Regions from separate parts of the Homo sapiens genome. Here regions 1, 2 and 3 are each linked to region 4. The links come from fine-mapping of genetic effects on gene expression. A gene starts in region 4. Each other region holds a variant in brackets. All regions are shown on one strand. Distances are from middle to middle.

Region 1 (8,110 bases), 200 kb before region 4:
CAAGATTTGAGTAAATTAATAAGCGCTGATCAGAGTGCAGAGAATTGGGCTGTTTCTATACAAAACCAATAGAAATGCAAATTGATACACCCATTCTCTGGAAAAATTTGAATGTAGCCTGGACAACATAGCAAGACCCCCATGTCTTTAAAATAATGAGAACATCTGTGTTCTAACGCATAGTGCTTAGCTTTTTTTTTTTTCTTTTTTTTGAGAAGGAGTCGAGCTCTGTTGCCCAGGCTGGAGTGCAGTGGCACAATCTCGGCTCACTGCAACCTCTGCCTCCTAGGCTCAAACAATCCTCCTGCCTCAGCCTCCCGAGTAGCTGGGACTACAGCTGTGTGCCATGCCCGGCCTCTGGCCAGCATACTTTTTAAAAATTGGAAGACTCGGATGGGCACGGTGGCTCACGCCTGTAATCCCAGCACTTTGGGAGGCCAAGGTGGGCGGATCACGAGGTCAGAAGATGGAGACCATCCTGGCTAACACGGTGAAACCCCGTCTCTACTGAAAATACAAAAAATTAGCTGGGCATGGAGGCGTGCGCCTGTAGTCCCAGCTGCTGGGGAGACTGAGGCAGGAGAATGGCGTGAACCGGGGAGGTGGAGCTTGCAGTGAACTGAGATGCCGCCACTGCACTCCAGCCTGGGCGACAGAGCAAGACTCTTTCTCAAAAAAAAAAAAAATTAGAAGACTCAGTAAATGTTAAGTCTGGCTGTTGTAATTGTCAGATGTACATCAAAATGCTGGTACTGCTTATCTTTAAGTAGTGGAATCGTAATTTTAATATTCTTTTGTACACTTTTCTATATTTCTACAATAATGCATTTTCCTTTTGTAATCAGAAAAAAAAAAGAAAATTAAGATTTCGGTCCTCATAGCCGTCTTTATAGTCAACTTTCTAAGCAAGATAACTTTGCTTAAGGTAATTCTCACTGCTGTGGGACAGTGATTCCATATTGGATAAAGGCTTCGATATTTTTGGAAAGGCATCCCAATCTTTGCTACCCTCTCTTCTAATAAGAGTCGAGGTGAACACTATCAAACAACTGAAAAATACTTCTATCAGGTCAGCGCTCCAGGATATTTCTATTCTTAGACATAATAAGATTTGGAGAGCAGTGCTTTAGAGGCTGGGCAAGAATTTTAGAAAGCTAAGGATTACAACAGATCTGGACATTTCTCCCCCATCCCCATTAACAGTCATGAACTGAAAATTTCTATTAGGGGTCATTCATTTACAGGAAAAACAACGAAAACCAAGAAACTTGGATTATGTCATTCATCTACTAACATTTTTTATGGCACCCCTGTGCCTATTCTAGTACCTACACATTACTCAGCCAGGCATCTGAGGTCATTTTAAAGATAATTTTCAGGCAGGTGTGGTAGCTTAGGCCTGTAATCTCAGCATTTTGGGAGGCTGAGGTGGGAGAATTGCTTCAGCCCAGGAGTTCCAGACCATTTTGGGCAAGAGGGCAAAACTCCATCTCGACAAAAATTACAAAAATTAGCCAGGTGTGGTGGCGCCCACTGGTGGTTCCAGCTAATCAGGAGGCTGAGGCAGGAGGATCGCTTGAGCCCAGGGGTGGAGGCTGTAGTGAGCCGTGACTGTGCCACTGCACTCCAGCCTAGGCAACAGAGCAAGACCCTGTCTCAAACAAAAAAAAAAGTGATATTCAGAGCGACTTGAAACATGGATCTGAATCTAGGTACTGGAGTTTCCACTTTCAGCTTCGGGACTATCAGTTCACACCCAGCTATAAACATATCGAGCAAATTCCTAGAACTCTTCTATGAGTGTCATATCAATATACACACCTGCATATGTGTACTGCTGAGCCACCGCGCCTGGCCAAAAGTATTTTTTTCAAGCGTCTAATGGTGTAATAATTAGCCATTCAAATTAAAGGGGCCATTCTAAAGAATTAGCTTCAGCAGGTGGTGTGGCTCAGGCCTGTAATCCCAGCACTTCGGGAGGCCAAGGCAGGTGGATCACCTGAGGTCAAGAGTTCGAGACCAGCCAGGCCAACATGGAGAAACCCCGTCTCTACTAAAAAAACCATGAAAATTAGCCGAGTGTGGTGGTGTGCACCTGTAGTCCCAGCTACTCAGGAGGCTGAGGCAGGAGAATTGCTTGAACCTGGGAGGTGGAGGTTGCAGTGAGCTGAGATCTTGTCATTGCACTCCAGCCTGGACAACAAGAGCGAAACTCTGTCTCAAAAAAAAAAAAAAAAAAAAGTTGAAGTAGGGGAGATAAGAATTAAATAGAATTGAATCAGTTGAAACAAAAAAAAATTCAATACAAGATGAAAAGAGCTGTTTTGGAAATCTTGGCAGCAGTGCTGAAAAGAAAAGGCTATTTTATTAACCTTTTAGCAAAGACATAGTCAGATGTGTGTTCAAGAATACCATTTGAAATTATAGTCTTACAAAATTACTACAGGCAGCCAGGAATGGTGGGTCATGCTTGTAATCCCACCACTTTGGGAGGGCGAGGCAGGAGGATTGCTTGAGGCCAGGAGTCTGAGACCAGTCTGGGTAACATAGTGAGATCTTGTCTCTACAAAAAAAAAAAAAAAAAAAACGGGCCAGGCATGGTGTCTGTAGTCCCAGCTATTCAGGAGGCTGAGGGGGGAAGATCACTTGAGCCAGGAAGGTCAATGCTGCAGTAAGCCATGATCTTGCCACTGCACTCTAGCTTGGGCAATGGAGCAAGAGCCTGTCTCAAAAAGAAAAAAAAAAAGTACTGCTACAAGTATTGTGACTCTAGAAGGTGTAAGGGTTTCAGAATGAGGATGGACAAAGGTTGACATTTTTGGGAACAATTATTAGGCACATGTATCTCTTTTTTTTTTTTTTTTTTGAGATGGGGTCTCACTCTGTTGCCCAGGCTGCAGTGCAAATGGTGCAATCTCGGCTCTTCGCAACCTCTGTCTCCCGGGTTCAAGCAATTCTCTTGCCTCAGCCTCCTGAGTAGCTGGGATTACAGGCGCACGCCACCATGCCTGGCTAATTTTTGTATTTTTACTAGAAATGGGGTTTCACCATGTTGGTCAGGCTGGTCTCTAACTCCTGACCTTGTGATCCACCCACCTCGGCCTCCCAAAGTGCTGGGATAACAGGCATGAGCCCCCCGTGCCCAGCCTAGGCACATGTATATTCTTACATGATTGTAAATGAAGGTGGTGATGGATAAGAGTACTAATCTTTTTATCCTGCATAGTCTGAAATTGGAATTTTCAAGGCAACTCTTCTTATCACAACCATCTGAATGTCTCCTTCCCTGAATGTCTACTTTATTCATTTATCAGTTGATAATGTTCGTATTTCATTGCGTCTGTCTAATTTGGCTATAAATGTGCAAGAGCGTCAGCCTGTCTGCCTTGGATTGTAAACTGTTAGAGGAGAGAGGCAAGGTTTAGCTAATTCTCTGTGTGAATCATTTAGCATGGCATAGCACTACACACAATCAAGGTTTTAATAAATGTGTTGATTATGATCTTTGAAAAAAGGCTTAGTCCCATTTATCGTCTTCTCGACCTTGTCAGCACTTCTCAAGAGGGTGGGGAGAGTTGACTTAATCTACATTTTTTTTTTTTTGAGACAGAATCCCACTCTGTCATCCAGGCTGGAGTGCAGTGGTGTGATCTCGGCTCACTGCAACCTCTGCCTCCCCAGGTTCAAGCAATTCTTGTGCCTCAGCCTCCCAAGTAGTTGGGATTACAGGTATGCGCCACCA[T/C]GCCCGGCTAATTTTTGTATTTTTAGTAGAGACAGGGTTTCACCATGTTGAACAGGCTGGTCTCAAACTCCACACCTGAAGTGATCTGCCCGCCTTGGCCTCCCAAAATGCTGGGATTACAGGCGTGAACCACCGCACCTGGCCTACTTTTAATACCTGAAGCTTATGCTAAATACGATAACTGCAACGTATCAGTGACGTCTGTTGGTGAATGTCTGAAATGTATTTTCACATTTCTGTAGCTGTTTGAGATGATATTACTTATATGGTACTTGGACACTTGACTTGAAGTAAATATGTTTTAAAATTGAATCACTTCAGTGTGAAATTCAAATTTTGTGGAATCCAAAAATATTTATTTTGACTTTTGCCAACTGTTATTGGGGATGGAATGCCTAATCCTTGAATTGTAACTTCAACAGAAAGGTCTCATTACCAGCACAGGGGTGAACAAAGGCTCAAGGAGACAGGAGACTTCTATATTTTGCCTCTTAACTATTTTTATTACAGTCAGTGATGTTAATCTCTAAAATATCCCAATAAATTAATGTAATCACTGCAGTTTTCTTTTTTTTTTTTTCTTTTTTTGAGACAGAGTTTCACTCTTGTTGCCCAGGCTGAAGTGCAATGGCACGATCTTGGCTCATTGCAACCTCCATCACCCGGGCTCAAGCGATTCTCCTGCCTCAGCCTCCTGAGTAGCTGGGATTACAGGCATCTGCCACCACGCCCGGCTGATTTTGTATTTATAGTAGAGACGGGGTTTCTCCATGTTGGTCAGGCTGGTCTCGAACTCCCAACCTCAGGTGATCTGCCCACCTCGGCCTCCCAAAGTGCTGGGATTACAGGCGTGAGCCACCATACCCAGCAGTTTTCTATCCATTCTATCAATATTCTATGCATTCATTCATATTTATTAAGTTGTCTATTATGTGCTAGGTTTTGAAATGTATAAAGAAGATGAAGGCCAGGTGTGGTGGCTCACACCTGTAATCCCAGCACTTTGGGAGGCTGAGGTGGGAGGAACACTTGAGCCCAGGGGTTTGAGATCAACTTAGGCACCATAGGGAGACCCTGTCTCACAAAACTTTTTTCAATAATTGTCTGGGTATGGTGGCATGTGCCTATGGTCCCCGCTACTCAGGAGGCTAAGGCAGGAGGATTGCTTGAGCCTAGGAGGTTAAGGCTGTGGTGAGCCATGTTTGTGCCACTGAACTCCAGCTTGGGCAACAAAAAGAAGGTAGACATGGTAACTGCCCTCATGGAGTGTAAAGTCTATCCAGACAAGTAACCAGTTACACAGTGGGCTGCATTTGTGGATGGGAGGAGATGTTGACTAGAGAGGAACAGACACAGACACACACAAACACACACATTTCTGGGATGACAGAAATGTTCTTATTTTGTTCTGGGTGAGTACATGAATGTATTCAGTCATCAAAACTCACCAAAGTGGCCAGGTGCGGTGGCTCACGCCTGTAATCCCAACACAGGCAGGAAGATCACATGAGGTCAGGAGTTCGAAACCAGCCTGGCCAAGATGGTGAAACCCCATCTCTATTAAAAATACAAAAATTAGCCAGGCATGGTGGCACACGCTTGTAATCCCGGCTACTTGGGAGGCTGAGGCAGGAGAATCACTTGAACTTGGGAGGCGGAGGTTGCAGTGAGTCGAGATTGCGCCACTGAACTCCAGCCTGGGTGACAGAGGGAGACTCTGTCTCAAAACAAAAGCAAAACTCACTGAACTGAACACTTAAGTTTCGTGCATTTTATTATACCTTAATTGCACTTCAATTTAAAAAAAAAAGCAGAAAAGAAAAACCAAGGTAGCAAAATAGCGATTATAATACGGTATGACAGTGAGTATCGTGTATGATGTACATGTGTATCAGTGTGCCTGACAACTTTAGGAGTTAAGAGTACAGCTCCTTGAGAAAGTCTACAGAGCTGGTAGCTAAAGGTTGATTAAAGATAGCCAGTCCAGGAAGCCAATGAAGCGCTTCCTCTGAACTTGGAAGAGATGGGGAATTTACATCTCAAAAGAGCTTGCCTGTGCAAAGGCCCAGAGGTAGGAGAGTATGACCCACTGGGGCACTGCAAGCAGTTCAGTATGGTTACAGTGGAGGTTGTGAGGTGAGGGTGGTGGGAAGTAGGCCTGGAGGGGTGAGCAGGGAATGGACGATAAAGGACCCTGTAACACTATTTTAATAAATTTGGACTTTTTCATGAGGCCATTGGGAAACCCTAAAGGAATAAATGTGTGTGTGTGTGTATATATATACACACACACACACATTTATGAGTGAGATCTTGGCTCACTGCACCCTCTGCCTCCCGGGTTCAAGTGATTCTCCTGCCTCAGCCTCCCAAGTAGCTGGGATTACATGTGCGCGTCACCATGCCTGGCTAATTTTTGTATTTTAAGTAGAGACAGGGTTTCACCATGTTGGCCACGCTAGTCTTGAACTCCTGGCCTCAACTGATCTGCCCACCTCAGCCTCCCAAAGTACTGGGATTACAGGCATGAGCCGCCTTGCCCCACCATCCCAAAGGAATTTAAACAGGAAAAGACAAAGTCAGACTTTTCGTGTAAAGAGGCTTTTGTCCTCAGGATAGAGAGCAAACCAGAAGTGGGGATGACTAAGCAGGTGGTGGGGGTGGTGGGGTAGTGCAGATTGGAGCTCAAGCTCCTGCAGCTGCAATGAAGCAAGAGAAACAGTAAGAGCCATGGGCCAAGGGGATGAAGAAGTAGATGGATGTGAGTGGTGCACAGGGCTAGAGCTGCTCAAAGGCAAAGTCAAGGATGACTTGCAGTTCTCTAGCATGGTGCCATAGAGCATGGTAGGGAACCCAGGAAGAGGAGCATGGGTTGGAAGGAAGTGGGTACTGAGCTGACAAATCTGAAACGCAGGGAAGAGACGGATTGGCAGAGGCTCAGGAGACCCATATACAGACCTAGACAGGGAATTCCTGAGAATGGTTACCTATCTGGAGTACAGGGTGAGGTCATCCAGAAGAATCTGTCGAGTGAGAAGTGGAAAGGCCTGCAATACTTGTATCAACACCAAAACTTGAAGGGTGGGTAGAGGAGATGGAGAAGAAATTGCTCAGAGAGACAGAAGGAAAACCGAGAGAGTAGAGTAGGTGGCCCAGCACGGTGGCTCACGCCTGTAATCACAACACATTAGGAGGCTGAGACAGGAGGAGTGCTTGAGCCCAGAAGTTTAAGACCATCCTGGGAAACATAGGGAGACCCCGTCTCTACAAAAAATAATAATAAATTAGCTGGATGTGATGGTGCACATCTGTAATACCAGCTACTCAGGAGGCTTAGGCAGGAGGATTGCTTAAGCCCAGGAGGTCAAGGCTGCAGTGAGCCATCATGGTGCCACTGCACGCCAGCCTGGGTGACAGAGTAAGATCCTGACTCAAAAAATTTATTTATTTATTTATTTATTTATTTATTTATTGAGACGGAGTTTTGCTCTTGTTGCCCAGGCTGAAGTGCAGCGGTGTGATCACGGCTCACCACAATCTCTGCCTCCCAGGTTCAAGTGATTCTCCTGCCTCAGCCTCCTGAGTAGCTGGGATTACAGGCATGCACCACCACACCCGGCTAACTTTGTATTTTTAGTAGAGACGGGGTTTCTCCATGTTGGTCAGGCTGGTCTCGAACTCCCAACCTCAGGTGATCTGCCCACCTCAGCCTCCCGAAGTGTTGGGGTTATAGCATGAGCCGCTGAGCCTGGCCAAAAAATTTTTTAAGAAGAAAAGAAATCTGAAATCTATTTCATGTTATATCTGAAATAGACATGATATGCTTTCTCTTAGTTTTCTAAAAAATATGTTTAAACCCTTTTCTGGTTTAGAATTTACTGTAGTTTGGAGTATAAGATTTGTCCAGGTAAATTCCCAACATCCTTATCAAGGAGTCATCAGATAGTTTCCGTCTTTGAAGCCTGGGTTGTCTTTGAATTTAGAGCAAAGAATGGTTGGAGTTTTTCCAAAGTTGCCAGCAAAAAGCATGCGTTTAAGAGGTCAGACTTGGCTTCTGGTCCCATCTTTGCCTGTAGCTAGATGTGTGATCCTGAGCACACTTAACTCTTCTGGGAGGCACTTTGTCAATGTAAATTGAGAAAGTACATAAAGTGACCTTGAAGGGCCCTTCTAGCTCAAAAACTTTATAGCAAATGATGGACTCTTTTTTTTTTTTTTTTGAGACGAGGTGTCACTCTGTTGCCTAGGCTGAAGTGCAGTGGCAGGACCTCTGCTCACTGCAACCTCCACCTCCCAGGTTCAAGCAATTCTGCCTCAGCCTCCAGAGTTGCTGGTATTACAGGTGCCTGCCACCAAGCCTTGCTAATT
Region 2 (5,000 bases), 130 kb before region 4:
CGAGCAGCGGTCAGACACGCGGGCCGGCACGCAGGGGCCTGAATCGAGCGCAGGGCTGGGCGGGGGCCGCACTCACCGCGATGCACTGCCGCATGATGCAGCTCTGCTTCATGCGCCCGGGGCCCCCGAACTTCTTCATGTCCTTGCAGAAGTGGCACTCTCCGCACTCGGTCCGCAGGCAGGCCTCGCACTTGCGGCATCGCGTCCGGCGCCGCCGAGCTCCTGCCGTTGTCCGGTTGGCGGCCAACTTCACCGCGGAGGCCGGGCCCAGCTTCCCCTTGGGCCGACCCACAGCCCGGTTCTGCAGGGGAACAGACACGACTGGTCAGATGGGGAGACTGCAGGCACGGCCAGACCCCCGGAAAGGGTGTTAGGGAGCAAACTGTGTACCCCCAGAAAGACACGATGGGGGCTCTAAACCCCATTCCTCAGAGTGTGATCTTTATTTGGAGATGGGGGCTTTGCAGAGACCGTCAGGTTAAACGAGGTAATTCAGGTGAACGCTAATCCAGTATGACTGGTGTCCTTACGAAAGGGGAACTTTTGGACACAGAGACAGACACGCACGTAGAGAACGTGTGTGAAGACACAGGCCTTCCACAGACTGGAGCCCTGTCTACAAGCCAAGAAGTGCCAAGGATGGCAGCACATACCAGGAGCTGGAGGCGCGGGGAAGGACCCTCCCCTAGAGCCCGCAGAGCCAGCCCGGCCCGCCAGCCCACACCTTGACTTCAGACTCCTGGCCTCCAGAACCGGGAGAGAAGAAAGGCCGGTTGTTTTAAGCCACCCGTTATGGCAGCCCTAGGAGAGGACGACAGAGGGCGCGTGCTTCTTGCCGCAGCACACAGCTCGAGACCTTCCATGGCTGCACCCACAGGCTCGGACCCTGCCCACCTTTCCCACCTCCGTCTGCTCCCCAAGAAAGACCGCAAGGGGCCACACAATCGGTCTCTGTTCCCCCAGCCCGGAAGGCCAACCCCACCCCCGCCCAAGCCACTTGGCTGATGCCCACTCATTCCGTCTGGTCAGTTTACAGGCTGCTTTCTTCTGGAAGCCCCTACTGCCCACCTGCACTGGGTTCAGGGCCCCTCTGGGAGATCCTGTTAGAGCGCTCATGATGGTAATCATCTGTTCCTTCCCTTTGAGACGGGGCACAGGAGGGCACTCACCACAGGTGTCTTGTGCACCACTGCACCTCTCTACGAGCCAGCCTGGCATGCAGAATGCACTCAACAAACCAGAGCCACCCCAGGGAGGATGGGATAGTAACCTTTAGGTCCCTGACTACTCAGATCTTCCCTAGATGGGCTCCAAATGCTCCCTTCCCTGGGACTCACAGAAGAGAGAGACAGTAGGTGGACAGAGAGCTGGGCTAGTAGCTAAGCCAGGAAAATGGGACAGCCACAGCCCCTGCCCTCTGGTTCCCAGCCCCAGAGCCTCCTGCAGACCCATGATCTACGGGGGAGCCCTAAGCTAGCTGCTGAGGACACTGTCCACAGAGGTCCCCTGTCCACCTGGGACCTGTAGTGGGAGGGACCAGGATGGGAGAGCTTTTCTTGTCTGTGGCATCTTTCTGGAGAGCCTGGGGTGGCTGAGAAATGGTGAAGTCCCTGTCAGGGAGACACGTGGTCACCCTGGAAACCAGCTGACCTAACGGCATCTAACGCCTAAAGCCCCTTTTCAGCTAACTGAACACCCTTTGGTCCAGAGTCCCACCCTCTTCATTTCAGTGACTTGTCATACTTGAATCCCCAAACAAAACCCCATACTTTTGGGAGCACACAGACCCAGAAGAGCTGTTACTATTCATACACTCCAATGGAGAAGAAGGTCCACATCACAGGGACCCCCTCTCACAACACACACAACTCCCTGCACCCTAGGGGCTTCCTAGAAACTTCCAACTGCATAGGAAGAAAAACAGCCCCCCTTTCTCCTC[A/G]AATACAGCCTCGCCACCATCAACTTTCTTCTCCAGTGCAGTGGTCCCTGTAGAAAGCCCGCAGCCTCACGTGCCACCCACTTTGCTGTCAACACCTAAGCAGACCCCTCCCTCCGATTCACCTTCCCACAGCATTCAAGGAGCTTCCAGGCCCCCATCAGCCCGAGTGGCCCCTCAGGAAGCACTGGAGCTCTGGGCCTCTACCCTGCTCAACCTGCTGTGAACCCCAAAGAGGAAAGGGAGGTGCTCCCCGGCTCTACCACCCTCATCTCCCACTGGTCTTCCCCAGCTGCTCAGGACCCTCAGTCATGCCTGCCCTCTGCTCTGGGGCAGCCCAGCAGAAGGCCTTGTCACAGGGAGGGCAAGCCCTGGACTGCAGGGCCACCCACAGGCAAGCTGGCCACCACCAGTCACCTGGGTAAAGGGACCATCCAAAGCAGCAAAGGGCGCCAGGAACGGTGGCTCACGCCTATAAGCCCAGCATGCTGGGGTCTGAGGTGGGAGGATCACTTGAGGTCAGGAGTTCAACATCAGCCTGGGCAACATAGTGAGACCTACAAAAAATTTTTAAAATTAGCCAGGTGTAGTGGTGTGCACCTGCAGACCCAGCTACTCAGGAGGCTGAGGTGGGAGGATTGCTTGAGCCCAGGAATTTGAGGTGGCAGTGAGCTGTGATCATCCACTGTACTCCAGCCTAGGAGACAGAGCAAGACCCTGTCTCAAAAAACAAAAAAGGAAGAAATCCATCCTTACAATGAGGGCCGGATGCCCCCAACATACTCGCATAGTCCCACTGCGATTAGCACCTTTCGGGGGCCAAGTCCACCACACACTACACACATCCATCCGAGTCACGTCTGGCTGCCCACGTGAGAAGTAAAACGAGATCAGTTTTCAGAGCTTCCTGGATTTGAGAATGGCACAGAGCAGACTGTGAACCTGAAGCTGAGCAGCCAACAGAGCAGCCAAGGCCAGGCAGGCAGCGCTAAGGACCGAGATGACGGCCATGCCGCGTGAGGGCAGGGATTCCCTGAGCACCCCCATCTGCGGGCACCGTGGCCATCACTTTACTGATGATATTACCTAACTTTCCCAATAACAGCACTGCAGAGGATGCCTTCCTGAAGCCAGTAATTTGCCTGTGGTCATGGAACCAGCATGATGCGTGGACTCCGGTGCTGTGCACTGAACACACTAAACCACAGCAAATGCATGTGCGAAGTGCAGCGAGGGGCCCACAGACCCACTGGGATGGCCACATGCTCCTGGAAGGGCTTCCCAGCTAGTGCCACGATGCCTCAGTGCGAAGGGTGCCAACAAGAGGTGCAGAGAAGCACGGCTACTTCCAGAGAAGCGGAAATCCAAAAACGTTTCTCCCTGTCATCACAGCCTACAATAGCACTTTCTGATTCTACCCCTCCAAACGACAGGTGCCCTGTTACCAGCTCACTCTTCAAATACCTGGAACACAGGCAATGCTATGGGCGGCGTCTAAGGCCTCCAGTCAGGTGTGAAGTGGCCAGCGTGTGGGCCACCTCCCAGGACAAAACCAGATCCCCGGAGCTGGAGAGTCTAAAGACGAGCTTCTCTGGTAAAAAACTGAAAAAATTCCAGGAGTTCAAAGGAACGCCAGGTATCAATAGCCACTGAGTGCCTCTGGCCTCCCTGCCCCGAGGACAGTGTCTGGGCAAGTAAAAACGTTGGGCCAATCCAGTCTGAGTCTCGAAGCTCCTATGTCACTGCAAAACAAGCCCATTTGCCTGCACCAACCAAAGCACCTTCTCATCCAGCCTATGGAAAACAACCTGCCTGGACCTCAACAGCAGTTGAGACATCTGGGAAAATCACAGAGCACATACCAGACAACATCCTGAAAGAAGAGGTGTGAGAAGCTGCAGTCTCTCGAGACCTTGATGAGGCCCTGTCTAGCCGCTGCCAAATCAGGCCAGGAAGGTTTCTGCTGCCGGCAGTGGCCCCCGCCTGGCTCATCAAGAGTTGGTTCAACAACAGAGCAACGCAGGATCCTAATGAAGCCCACTGAAAAACCCACAGGTAAGACAGACCTCGGAGGCCTCCATTAAAAAGTCCAACTGGGACTCTGAAGACCCAACCAGGAAACGTGATGGCAGAATACAGAAAACAGTGACACAAAAAGGGACAAATGGAATAAAAAGGAAGGTGAGTCTGCCAGAGCTCTCTCCTTTCAGCACACAGCTTTCTCTGTCCTGATATCTTTTGGGTGCTACCCAAAGTTTCAAACGCCAATTCTTTTCTTTTCTTTTCTTTTCTTTTTTTTTGAGATAGAGTCTCACTGTGTCACCCAGGCCGGAGTGCAGTGGCGTCATCTTGGCTCACTATAACCTCTGGCTCCCGGGTTCAAGCAATTCTTGTGCTTCAGCCTCCCGAATAGCTGGAATTACAGGTGTGCGCCACCAAGCCCAGCTAAGTTTTATATTTTTAGTAGAGATAGCATTTCGTCATGTTGGCCAGGCTGGTCTCAAACTCCCGGCCTCAAGTGATTTGCCCGCCTCAGCCTCCTGAAGTGCTGGGGTTACAGGCATGAGTCACTGTGCCTGGCCTCAAACACCAATTCTAACTTCCACTCTGTCCTACCCCTGTCCCAGCAAAGGAAGTGACGGCATCCCCAGACATTCATTTACGAACCAGCATCCCCAACACCAAGGCGACTTGTTGATTTTATCAGCCCAGGAACCATATCCTCAGCCCACTATGAAAGGTTAGGAAGATCGGAAACATACACACACACACACACACACACACACACACACACACAAATATCTTGGTATTCCTACACCTCTTCTCCATCAGCAACTCAAGAGCATTGTCCTTTAAGTGAATGCTATCAAGGTTTATTCATTCATCCCACCAATATTTGAGTTCCTCTGGTCTACCAGATATTATCCACCAGAAAATGCATGGACAGAACCTCCTCAATCCCTCAGCTCTAAATTATAGGGATTAAAATTACTTAGATTAACCTAAATTAAAGGAAAGACATCCGTGTTCATGAATTGGAAGATTTAATATTGTTAAGATCGGT
Region 3 (5,000 bases), 27 kb before region 4:
CCGCCGGGTGTGGTGGCGGGCGCCTGTAGTCCCAGCTACTTGGGAGGCTGAGTCAGGAGAATGGCGTGAACCCGGGAGGCGGGGTTGCAGCGAGCCGAGATCGCGCCACTGCACTACAGCCTGGGCGACAGAGCAAGACTCTGTCTCAAAAAAAAAAAAGAAAGAAAGAACCCCGGTACCCTCCCCACTCTCGCTCTCTGGCCAGCCTCCCACCTCCACCCACTTCTCCTCCCTAATCTTGCTCAAGGTCATGTCTGCAAAGCTCCCTGTGCAAAGGAGTCTGCTGGGCAGGTAGCAAATAGGATAAAGAGCACTAAAATCACGAACCCAGAGTCCTGCAAGTCAGCACTGAAGGCCAAGCTCAGCTACCCCTACCCACACACTGTTAAAATTTAGAGGGTTCGGTTCCCAGCGGAGCCTCCAGCCTGTGCCTCGGGCTCTTGGCTTCTCTGGGAATCAGTTTCTTCTTCATCTATAACATGGGGAACAAATAGCCAGCCCAGGAGCTGTCCTGAGACATAACTGAGTTCATGCACTTCACACTCACTTGGAGCACCTACAGGTAGGTAGCGTTACCGAGTCGGTCAGTTTCATCTGTAACTAGAGGTGGAGAAGGTGAGGAGCTGGGAAGTTTAGGGACTTGCCCAGCATCACAGCCAGTTAAATCGTTGCTGGCCAGTCCCAGTGAACAGACTGCTTAGGACCCTACAACATATTCAAGATGCAAATGGGTGTGGGGTTCTTCTGGGGAATGATGAAAAAGTTCTAAAATGGACTTTCATAATGGTTGCACAGCTCTGTGAATATACTGAAAACAAGTGAATTGTGGCCGGCCTTGGTGGCTGGTGGCTCACACCTGTAATCCCAACAGTTTGGGAGACAGAGCTGGAAGGAGCGCTGGGCCCTAGAAGTTTGAGATCAGCCTGGGTAATATAGTGACACCCCAGCTCCACACACACACACACACACACACACACACACACACACACACACACACACACAAATTGGCCAAGCATGGTGACCCACACCGGTGGTCCCAGCTACTCTGAAGGCTGAAGTGGGAGGACTGCTTGAGCGTCAGGAGGTTGAGGCTCCAGTGAGCCATGATCGTGCCACTGCACTCCAGCTTGGGCAACAGAGCCAGATCCTGTCTCAAAAAAAAAAAAAGTGGGGTGAAATGAATTGTATGGTCTGTGACTTATATTTCAATGAAACTTTTTACTTTTTTAAAATGGAGAGTCTCAGAGATGGCAAGTAATCTGGGAGTGTTTCCAAATAAATGTATACCTTGTATATATCATGATACTTGCCCTTTGTAACATACTTTTTTTTTTTTTTGAGACAAAGTCTCTCTTTTGTCCCCCAGGCTGGAGTGCGATGGCGATGGCGCGATCTCGGCTCACTGCAACCTCTGCCTCCCAGGTTCAAGCGATTCTCCTGCCTCAGCCCCCCGAGTAGCTGGGATTACAGGCGCCTGCCACCACGCCCAGCTAATTTTTGTATTTTCAGTAGAGACGGGGTTTTACCATGTTGTCCAGGCTGGTCTAGAACTCCTGACCTCAGGTGATCCACCTGCCTCAGCCTCCCAAAGTGCTGGGATTACAGGCGTGAGCCACCGCACCCGGCCTGTAACATACTTTAAATTAACACTTTTATACTCTCATTTAATCCCAGGTATATATACCTCTCTCACATGCACACAGGTATTAATCCACAAGTTATGATTTTCAGTCTTAGTCCAAATGTGGACCAGAAAAAACAAAAGAACATCTGCATCTGGGATTCATGCAGCACTCAAATATTTGATGAATGCAAGAGTAGGCTGAGTGTGGTGACTCACACCTGTAACCCCAACACTTTGGGAAGCTGAAGCAGGAGGATCACTTAAGCCCAGGAGTTCAAGACCAGCCTGGATAACATGTCAAGACCCCATCTCTACAAAAAATTTAAAAATTATCTGTGCATGTTGGCAGACACCAGTATTCCCAGCTACTTGGGAGGATCACTTGAGCCTGGAAGGCAGAGGCTACAGTGAGCAATGGCTGTGCCACTGCACTCCAGCCTAGGTGACAGAGTGAGACTCTATCTTAAAAAATAAAAAATTTTAAAAAACAGTAGATAGCAATCCTATTTTATAAAAAATGGATACCAATTTAAAATAATGTTTAATCATATCATTTAGTTATGAGGATATAGTAATTTACAAAATTATACCTTAAGACCCTGAAAATGTTATTTATTTTGCAAGTGTCAAAGTATCAAAAAAGAAAGAATAACTAGTCTGGGGTAATTTTATTTTTTTCTTTTGAGACAGAGTCTCGCTCTGTCTCCCAGGCTAGAGTGCAGTGGCACGATCTCAGCACACTGCAACCTCCACCTCCCTGGTTCAAGTAATTCTTGTGCCTAAACCACCAAAGTAGCTGGGATTACAGGCGTGGGCCACCATACCCGGCTAATATTTGTATTTTTTGTAGGGACGGGGTTTCGCCATATTGCCCAGGCTGGTGTCAAACTCCTGGGCTCAAGTCATCTGCCCACCTAGGCCTCCCAAAATGTCTGAGATTATAGGCGTGAGCCACCACACCTGGCCAAAATTTTTTATAAGAATATAAATAAGTAAGTGATATAGTTTGGATATTTTTCCCCCCCAAATCTCAAATCTCATGTTGAAACATGAATATCTCTCAAATATCTCCA[A/G]TGTTAGAGGTAGGAATTGGTGTGTGGTGTTTGGGACGTGAGGGTGGATCCTTCACGAATGCCTTGGTACCCTCCTTGCATAAAGAGTGAATTCCCACTCTATTAGTTCCCATGAGACTGAATTGGGTTTTTGTTTTGTTTTTTTTGTTTTTTGTTTTTTTTTTGAGACGGAGTCTCACTCTCTCACCTACACTGGAGTACAGTGGCACGATCTCGGCTCACTGCAACCTCTGCCTCCCAAGTTCAAGAGATCCTCCTGCCTCAGCCTCCCGAGTAGCTGGGACTACAAGAACGCACCACCACGCCTGGCTAATTTTTTGTATTTTAGTAGAGATGGGGTTTCACCATGTTGGCCAGGCTGGTCTTGAACTCCTGACATTGTGATCTGCCCTCCTCAGCCTCCCAAAATGCTGGGATTACAGGGGTGAGCCACTGCACTCGGCCTGTTTTTTGTTTTTTGAGACAAAGCCTCACTCTGCTCATTAGGCTGGAGTGCAGTGGCTTGAACATGGCTCACTGTAGCCTCAAACTCCTGGGCTCAAGCGATCCTCCTACCTCAGCCTCCCAAATAGCTGGGGCTACAGGCTGGATTATTTAGAAGCATTTGGCACCTCCCTCCTCTCTCTCTTGCTCCCTCTGTGGCTATGTGACACACCAGCTCACCCTCCCCTTCCATCATGACTGGAAGCTTCCTGAAGTCCTCACCAGAAGCAGATGCTGGCTCCATGCTTCCTGTACAGCCTGCAGAGCTGAATCAAATAAACCTTTCTTTATAAATAATCCAACCCAGCTGGGCACCATGGCTCAAGCCTGTAATCCCAGCACTTTGGGAGGCCGAGGCAAGTGGATCACTTGAGGTCAAGAGTTTGAGACTAACCTGGACAACATGGTGAAACCCTGTCTCTACTAAAAATACAAAAATTGAGCCAGGCCTGGTTATGCGCACCTGTAACCCCAGCTACTCAGGAGGCTGAGGCAGGAGAATCACTTGAATCCAGGAAGCGGAGGTTGCAGTGAGCTGAGATGGTGCCACTGCACTCCAACCTGGGCGACAGAGTGAGACTCTGTCCTTAAAAAAAAAAAAAAAATCCAACCTCAGGCATTCCTTTATAGCAACACAAAGTGAACTAAGCCAGTAAATCAATAAAAATGTAATTTTAAAAAGAAAAAAAGGTTGTAGGATTAGCTAAGATTATGACCCAGATCGAACAGTAGACGCAGGGAAGGCACTAACCAGAAATCAGCACCCTCCCCTCCTCAGCCTACCCAGTTCCCTGTAATTTGCTAACGGTTTTGGCTACCCACGTACCTCAAGGGGTACTGTGAGTTGAACTGCACTCCCCCAAAATATATGTTCAGTCCCTAATATCTGTGATACAGGGTCTTTGCTGACGTGATCAAGCTAGAATGAGATCATATGGGATTAGGGTAGGCCTAATAAGACAAGAGAATTTTTTTTTTTTTTTTTTTTTTTTGAGACAGAGTCTCACTCTGTTCCCCAGGATGGAGTTCAGTGGTACAATCTCAGCTCATTGCAACCTCTGCCTCCTGGGTTCAAGCGATTCTCCTGCCTCAACCTCCCGATTAGCTGGGATTACAGGCGCCTACCACCACTTCCGGCTAATTTTTTTGTATTTTTAGTAGAGACGGGGTTTCACCATTTTGCCCAGGCTGGTCTTGAACTCCTGACCTCAGGTGATCCACCCACCTCAGCCTCCCAAAGTGCTGGGATTACAGGCGTGAGCCACCGTGCCCAGCCATGACAAAGGAAATGTGGACACAGACACACAGAAGGAAGACAGCCACGTGAAGACGGAGGCAGAGATCAGAGTGACGCAGCTACAAGCCAAGGCGCACTAAGCACTGCCAGCCACCACCAGAAGCCAGAGAAGGCAAGGAAGGACCTGCCCCTAGAGACTTCAGGGGGAAATGTAGCCCTACAGACACCCTTAATTTTGGACTTCTAGCCTGCAGAAGTGTGAGAGAATAAACTTCTGTGGTTTTAAGCCACTCACTTTGTGGTACTTTGTTATGACAGCCTAGGAAACTAATCGAAGGGTTAGTGAGAGAATGACTGGGTATACCTACATGGCTCCATAAATGTGACATATTTACACAGGGGAGGGCTGGTCCCTCCCCTTGCCTCCCTCCCAGAGCCTGGTATAAGCGGATCACGGGGCCAACACCTTCTATAACGAAATCGCAGTTTACCTAGTAGCTTCACAAACAGAAAGGTGTCACCCACTGATGACCTCATACCACTTCATCCTAAATACCGTATTTCTTGGTTACTTGTTTCTTGT
Region 4 (7,893 bases):
GCTCCCGCCCTCCCTCGGTCCGCCTGTCCATCTCCAGGTCCCTCTGTCCGCCGGCCCCCTGGCTCTGCCCACCCTGGGGCTGGTGGTGGGCGCGGGCCGGGCCTAGGCCCATGCCCGGCCCCCCTTACTGCCTGCCCTCCTCCCTCACCACCCCACCCCACCCCCCCAGTGCTCGGCCTCGTTTCGTCACCGGATCCCCTGGAATGGGGGACGCGGGCGCGAAATACGAACCCAGCCACCGGCAGCTCCCTCCCCACGTGCGCTCGGCCCGCAGCGCAGAGGGCGGCCCGGGGTGGGGGCGCCTCACCTTTGCCCTCCATGGCGTGCACGAAGTCCCCCTGGTACAGCTGGCTGCGAAGCTTCTCCTCCAGGCTGAAGCCGCGGACGCTGACGATCTCCTCCACGTCCGACAAGTCCTCGTTCTCGTCGTATCGCTGGCGGTCAATCGGGCGCTGCGAGGACCCAAACCAGAGAGCCCGGGACATTATTGTGGGGGCTGGAGGTCGCCTCTCAACCTGGGCCCAGCACTAACAGGTGCAGCAGCCGAGCGCCCCCTGCACCCCACCATTGCAACCCAAGCAACTTTGCGCAATTGCCAAAGATGCTGAAAAGCAGGACAAGGAGAGGGGCCCGCACCCCGAGGGTCCAGCTGCGCTCTACGCGGGGTACTCCCCTCCGGTGTCTTCGGAAGCACTGAAGGGACATCTGGGGACCCTCCCCTGCCCCCCGCCCCCGAAATGTGCTGGGCTTCGCCCACTCGGCCGGGAGCCTGGTTATGTAACCCGCGAAGGGGGCTCCGGACACGGGCTGGCGGGGCAAATGTAGGCCCCAGGAGGAGCCGCTGCGGCGCCCGGCTCGGCGGTAACAGCAGCCCCAGCGGCCGCGGCGGCAGAGCCGGGAAGCCGGAACCGGGGGCCGGCGGCATTTCTAAAGCTGGAGCCGCCCCCGAGCTACCGGGGAAGCTGGAAAGCTGAAATGGAAGGGCTGAGACCCCAGCCGCCCCCGCCGCCCGCCCGCCAGTGCAAGAAGAGGAGGTGGGGGGAGGAGAATCGGGGCTTGGAAGGGGGAGAGGCAGACGGCCCGCCACAAAGCTCGGATCGGAGACCCCAAAACGCACCAGCAGCTGCCTCATCTCCCCACAAGCGCGCGCGCACACTCACTTCCTAAGGAGACTCCCCCACCACTCCCCGCATCCCCCTGCCTCCTCCCTCCACCGCCCAGCGCCCGGCCCCTCAGCCCCCCAGATTCCGGGCGAACCCCGAGCCCGCTCAGCCCCCCTCCACGCCTTTCCCCGATACCACCTCCCCACTTAAGTGTCTGAGACTCTAAGCCTCACAAGGGGCTGGAGGAGTAAGCAGCTTGCTTCCTTTTGCATGCAATTTATTATATTTTTTTCCCGGTCCTCTTGCAAAATACAGAAAAGGAAAGAAAAGGCAGCGAGAAACAACCAAAAAAAAAAAAAAAAAGATCTATCATATGCCAGATACAGATTTGGAAAAAAAAAAAAAAAAAAAAAGCTACACACCAATCTTCTTCCAGAGTCTTTCTCTGCCTCCATTTTTTTAGGAGAGTTCACCAATTAATTGTCAACACTCCTGCCCCCTGCATTTTGGCCGAGGGGGGAAGGAGGGAAGACCAAAGAAAACAAACCAAAAAATAAATAAATAAAGCAAGCCAGAGCCGAGATCTACAAAGTTTTGCACCAACACTTAGGCAGATCCGTTTGCAAAGTCCTAGGAAACCATTTTCAGCAGTTGTGGGGGGGGGGAGGCGTCGACGTCATAATCCCCGGAACGTAAACATTGTTGCCGATCGCGCTCGGAGCCCGCGGCCGGGCTATTTGGGGGGGCTCTCGGCCCGGGCTTGGGGGGGTGGGGGCGGCGGCCCGAGGAGGTATGGGGCGGGGAGGGAGCCCGGGAGGCACCGGGCGCCGTTAGCGCCGTGGCATCGCTGTTTTGTTGTTGGGTCACGAGTGCGCCTCTGCACGCAGGCGCCGCCGCCGCCCGGGAGTTGTGTGCAGAGCTGACTTTTGGAGGGCCGAGTTGCAGGCGGCGGGCGCATCCCGGAGATGGCGGGGCAGGGAGGGAGGGAAGGAGGAGGGGGCGGGGAGGGAGGTGCAGATTTGCACGGCTGGCCTCAGCGGGAGGCGCGGAAATGCAAGCCGAGCATGCTGGCGTGAAAGCCCCCGGGGCCTGGCACCCCCAAAAACGACCCCCCACCTCCGTTCCTGCCCTCATTGCCCAGGGCTACCCCTCTTCCTCTTCTTTCATCCACCCCTCCCCCAACATTACCTGTGTGGCCGACTCAAATTCAAAGCATTTTGTATATATAACTGTTTTCTTTTTTTGCTTTTCTGCTGCATGTCTTTTTCGTGGGGGGTGATCCTCTGCAGATCCCCCCATTTGCGGACCCGCCATGTGGAGGAGGCATTTGGGGGGCTCAGAAGGAAATTAGCTCGGCTTCCATACCTATAAGGACTGCCTAACTTTTAAACTCCCGGCACTCAAAGATGTGGACACACACACGTACAGGAAATACAGCCAGACCAGAGCCTTTGCAGTCCGCAGCTGACCGGAAGACGTTGCCTTTCATTCATTCATTCTGCCCGCCTCTGTGGACTCCTTTACTAGGCGACCAGCCCTGAAACAGAAGTTGGACATTTTTTAAAGGTTCTTGCGCTCGGCAAGGGGAGCAGATAGATGCTCAGGAGCGAAAGACGCAGAGAATTGGATCTGGCGCCTCCTAACGCAGCCCGCACAGGAGCGAAGGGTAAGCCCTTGTTGGTAGTTTATAGAAGACAAGTCGGTGGAAAGGTGCATGGTGCTCTGGGATAGGTGGGGGGAACTCTAGTGCCCTTGATGAAGCCCCTACAGGGCTTCTTAGCGGAGGTATCGGCACCCTCCGTACATACATGGGTGTCATTAGGTCCCTGTCCACTTACTAGTGTTTTTGACTACCCCAGCACTGGTCCTGGGTTGTCTTGTCCTCCCATCATGAGCAACAGTCAGGTCGACTTGGCTTGAGAAAAGCTAGCCCTAAACATTCCTCCAGCCCCAGCTGTGGCGCCCTGCTAGGCCTGATCTTGCGGGTAAAGATGCTGATAAAATGACATGGCAAGAGGGAGACGATAAAGGGACATTGTAGATAGCAGGCTTTGAGCCTGACATTTTATTTCTGCCATAACCCTGTGGGATACTTGGAGCAGGTCATTTTGCAGATAGGGAAACTGAAGCTCAGAGAAATTATGAATCTGAATGATTGCTGTGCTCCCATATGGTCCCCAGGCTATCAGACAGACCTGTGGGGAGGACGTGGCTTCCCCACCAGGAGATACGATGTCACTATCAGCATCGTATTGGCCGTCCTAAGAGACAGCTTCCCCCTCACTCACCTTAGAAGTTTCCTGTCCTATCTGACTGTAGTCTTTCCCACCCATCCTCAAAGGCTACTCTTTGAAGTTTGTTTTCATTCATGTTCACTAGCTGTAAAAATCTTTTAAGCAGGGATGAGGCTGGGAAACATCAAAATTTGTTTCCAAACTGAAATCGCCCACGTTGGCTGCTGCGTGCAATCAGTAGCCCTTCGTGTGAGTGCTGCCGGTTCTGCCTTCAGTCCGTCCAGAACCATGGACCATTTTATTTGTTCCTGTCTTTCTCACAAGAACCCTTTAAGGGAAATCGTCTTGTTCGTTCCCATTTTGCAAAGGAGGAAATTAGGACTAAGAAAAGCAAAGCCACTCACCCAGGATCACATAGCGCGTATGTGCCGCTGCCAGGGCTCACACTGGAGCCTGGCTTGGCCATCACGTGCTTTTTTTTTTTTTTTTTTTTTTTTTAGTAACTTACCAGCCTCACTACTGCCCCATAATGAAATAAACATGTTCAAAGGAGGCTGCATGGGCTGGAGAGTGACGCAAAGTGAATTAAGTGAAATAAAGCAAAAAATATATAATAGAATGCTTCATCTAATTAATTCTTTTTTCTCCCTGAGGCCCTTCTTTCTCTCCAAGTGGCCTCATAGTGGCCCCAAAAGCTGGCATCAGAAAAAGGTCCAATGGCAGCCACCTTAGTATAAAAACAGTTAAGTCCATCTATCACCTCCACGAGGAGTTCCTGGCCTGTCAGAGTGGGAAGGGGCTGGGTAGTCACCTCATTTAATCCCCCCCCTTTACAAACCTCGAGGAAACCGCAAACACGAGAAAAGAATGGGCCAGCCGGGGGTTTGTTCCCCTTGGCCTCCCCCAGAATGCCTGCCCTGCTGCCGGGTCCTAAGTGGCCACTCAATAAATGTTGGGCCCTTGATGAATCACCTTCCCCCTCGATATTTGCATTTTCTCTTTATCAGTAATTGGCAGATGAAAGGCTTTGTCCTCCAGTTGAAAGAATTCCAAGCATTTGCTCAAAGTGGGGGAGGAGGTTATTTTGGACCAAAGGGGGAAGGGCCAAGACCCTGGAGCTCCCAGTGTTGACTAATTGTCCCAGAGAAGTGGAGAGTAGGTAAGGGAAGAGAGAAGGTGAAGGTGCTTACCCCAGAGATGTACTTTTTCTTGCAGGAAAACACCGGGCCGGTTGTATTGGAAACATAATAATAATTATTTCCTGGACCCTCCTGCTCGATCTTACAAAGGGCCCAGTCAAATCCTGCCTGAGTTACCCCCATTCATTCTTCATTCATCAAAGGTTGATTGAGCAACTCTGTGCCCAAAGACAGAGAGGCTAGAGAAAAGAAGATGCAGCGTGGGGCATGCAGATTGGGGCATACTCGAGGCTGGGTAGGACGATGGACCTGCAGCTTCCCAAGGAAAGGGTGGACACTGGATGTAGCTCTCAGAAACCAGAATCTTGATAAGAAATTGAAGTTGTTCTCATATTCATATATGATTATCATAACTCCTGATTTTTCTTTTCTTTTTTTTGAGAGAGGGTCTTGCTCTGTTGCCCAGGCTGGAGTGCAGTGACACAATCTCAGCTCACTGCAACCTCCACCTCCTGGACTCAGCAATGCTCCACCTTAGCCTTCCAAGTAGCTGAGACTACAGGAGTGCACCACCATGCCCAGCTAATTTTTGTATTTTTGGTAGAGACAGGGTTTTGCCGTGTTGCCCAGGCTGGTCTCCAACTCCTAGGCTCAAGTGTTCCTCCCACCTCGGCCTCCCAAAGTGCTGAGATTACAGCCGTAAGCCACCACACCTGGCCCTGTTTTGTTTTAATTTAAGGATATCTAATCATTCCACATCAGCATATGTGGAATGCTATAGCACATCAGCTATAGTTTCCTTATTCTTTCTAATGATTTCATAGCATTTCATTGGGCAGATAAATGGTGCAAGAATGATTTAATTAGTTCCCTAACTTTTAGATGGTTTTCAATCTTTTTCTATTGCAAACAGAGCTATAAGGGATTGCAGCTTTGTGCTTGAGTCTGTCAGTAGAATATATATCTGAAAGTGATCATCCACGTCTCAGGATTCCTACCCTATCACCAACTATTTGTCCTTGAGAAGTTTATTTGTAAGATCTGAGCAGGTGGGACAACCTCATATCCAACTGGTATCCCCAGGAGTCTACGCAGTGCCATGCCCTTGGCAGGCACTCAGAGAGAGTGGTTTAAGGGCTAACACTGCAAGCATTCACACTGTAATCAGATGGCCTCTTCTAGGAAACCTTTGCTGATATCCTTGGCCCCCTTTCCCCATGGACCCTTCATTCATTCCACAAATGTTTGTGGAAGGTTGATTAGGGGGACCCTGTATCAAATCAGCCTCTTAGGTATATATAGCCTGGTAGGTGAGTTAAAACAAATTCTGGAAAGCACTCTAAGGCTGTGCTGTTTGATGGGATACATTAGCTACATACAGCTACTTAAATTTAATTAAAATAAAATGTAAAATTCAGCTCCTTAACCCAGTACCTACATTTGAAGGGGCTAGAAGTGACAGCACTGAATGGTGCAGATACAGAATATCCCTATCATTGGCTGGGCGCTGTGGGTCACACCTGTAATCCCAGCATTTTGGGATGCTGAGGCAGGTGGATCACCTGAGGTCAGGAGTTCAAGACCAGCCTGGCCAACAGGATGAAACCCCCGTCTCTATTAAAAATACAAAAATTGGACAAGCGTGGTGGTGCACACCTGTAATCCCAGCAACTCGGGAGGCTGAGGCAGGAGAATTGCTTGAACCCAGGAGGCAGAGTTTGCAATGAGCTGATTGCACCACTGCACTCAAGCCTGGGTGACAGAGGGGGATTCTGTCTCAAAAAAAAAAAAAGAATATCTTGAATAACTCTATCATCTTCTGTGGGACAGCCCTGAAGGGAGGCTTAGCATAGTGGGCAACCCTGTGGGCTCTGGATTCCTGTAAGCTCTGAGTTCGAATCCTATCATTATTTCCTAGCTATAAAATTTGGCCAAGCAAGTTAACCTGTCTTTGAGCCTCAGCCATAAAGGTGGGGAATTACAGCCCCTTATGGAGATTTGGCAAGGATTCAAAGGTACTGCAAATGTGAGGGGCTTTGCACAAAGTCATAGTAATATTATAAAAAATCTGGAGTGAAGCCAGGCGCAGTGGCTCATGCCTATAATCCCAGCAATTTGGGAGGCCAAGGCGGACAGATCACCTGTGCTCAGGAGTTCGAGACCAGCTTGGGCAACATGATAAAACCCTATCTCTACTAAAAATACAAAAATTAGCTGGGTGTGGTGGCGTGCGCCTGTAGTCCCAGCTACTCAGGAGGCTGAGGCACAAGAACCGCTTGAACCCAGGAGGCAGAGGTTGCAGTGAGCCAAGATCATTCACTGCACTCCAGCCTGGGTGACATCCCGAGACTCCGTCTCCAAACCAAAACGAAACTAAACAACATGCAGAATACTAATAATACTAAGTTGTGCGGACCATGTAAGGAAACCAAAAGGGTTATGTCTGTATCTACATGCTTTTTTTTTTTTTTTTTTTTTTGTGAGACAGAGTCTTGCTATAACACCCAGGCTGGAGTACAATGGCACAATCTCGGCTCACTGAAACCTCCGCCTCCCGGGTTCAAGCAATTCTCCTGCCTCAGCCTCCCAAGTAGCTGGGACTACAGGCGCATACCACCATGCCCGGCTGATTTTTGTGTTTTTAGTAGAGACAGGGTTTCACCATACTGGCCAGGCAGGTCTCAAACTTCTGACCTCAGGTGATCCGCCCATCTCGGCCTCCCAGACTGCTGGGACTACAGGCATGAGCCACCGTGCCCGACCCATACATTCTTTAGTATGTGCAGAATTTCCTTTGGAAAGATCAAAAAGTGAGAAAAAGAACTGGGAAAAGAGAAGAAAGCCTATTTTTTGGTAAAGTGATATTTTTACCACATATGTACATGAACGGTGCCTGATTTTAAACCTTATTGACTTAATCTCATTTTAGATGCTGTAGTACCTCTTGAATTTTGTACCGCACAGATGTATTACCTACTCAAAAATAATTCCATTTTATTCCTTTTTTAAGTCTATAAGATTCAAAATCAGGCAAACCTAAACCAAAACTAAATTTTTTTTTTTTTTTTGAGACAGGGTCTTGCTCTGTCACCCAGGCTCTGGTGTGCAGTGGTGTGATCACAGCTCACTGTAGCCTCCACCTCCCGCGCTCAGGCAATGCTCCCACCTCAGACTCCCGAGTAGCTGGGACTTGTAGGCATGCAAGACCAGGCCCAGCTAATTTTGGTACTTTTTGTAGGGACTCTGTTTTGCCATGTTACTCAGGCTGTTCTCAAACTCCTGAGCTCAAGTGATCCACCCCTCAGCCTCCCAAAGTGGGGGATTACAGGCTAAATATTCTTTAGATATAGATACATAAGTCACAAAACAGGAATAAAAGCAAGGAATGATTAACACAAAATGCTGCAAAAGACCATT

Evidence for each region. PIP is the estimated chance that this variant, and not a neighbour inherited with it, causes the effect.
Region 1: its variant is fine-mapped to the expression of KDM2B in whole blood (TOPMed, PIP above 0.99).
Region 2: its variant is fine-mapped to the expression of KDM2B in whole blood (TOPMed, PIP above 0.99).
Region 3: its variant is fine-mapped to the expression of KDM2B in whole blood (TOPMed, PIP above 0.99).

Annotation. Positions count from the first base shown.
Region 1 is chr12:121,382,169-121,390,278 of GRCh38, forward strand. The region is part of intron 1 of LOC124903037 (a long non-coding RNA gene); the gene reads left to right. Among named protein-coding and RNA genes, the nearest start is that of RNF34, 14 kb to the right of the region's middle. The variant T/C (reference allele first, on the strand shown) is at 3,743.
Region 2 is chr12:121,453,044-121,458,043 of GRCh38, forward strand. KDM2B (lysine demethylase 2B) reads right to left here. Exons shown (of 23, transcript NM_032590.5): 13 at 77-301. Among named protein-coding and RNA genes, the nearest start is that of MIR7107, 11 kb to the left of the region's middle. RefSeq lists an enhancer at 1-695. The variant A/G (reference allele first, on the strand shown) is at 1,940.
Region 3 is chr12:121,553,084-121,558,083 of GRCh38, forward strand. The region is part of intron 4 of KDM2B (lysine demethylase 2B); the gene reads right to left. Among named protein-coding and RNA genes, the nearest start is that of KDM2B-DT, 25 kb to the right of the region's middle. The variant A/G (reference allele first, on the strand shown) is at 2,698.
Region 4 is chr12:121,578,495-121,586,387 of GRCh38, forward strand. It overlaps KDM2B (lysine demethylase 2B), which reads right to left and starts at 2,529. Exons shown (of 23, transcript NM_032590.5): 1 at 2,292-2,529; 2 at 308-452. The coding sequence starts at 2,417. KDM2B-DT (KDM2B divergent transcript) reads left to right here and starts at 2,017. Exons shown (of 4, transcript NR_183427.1): 1 at 2,017-2,769. RefSeq lists silencers at 571-650, 1,810-2,119, 2,200-2,249 and enhancers at 1,819-2,754, 3,690-4,625, 4,626-5,559.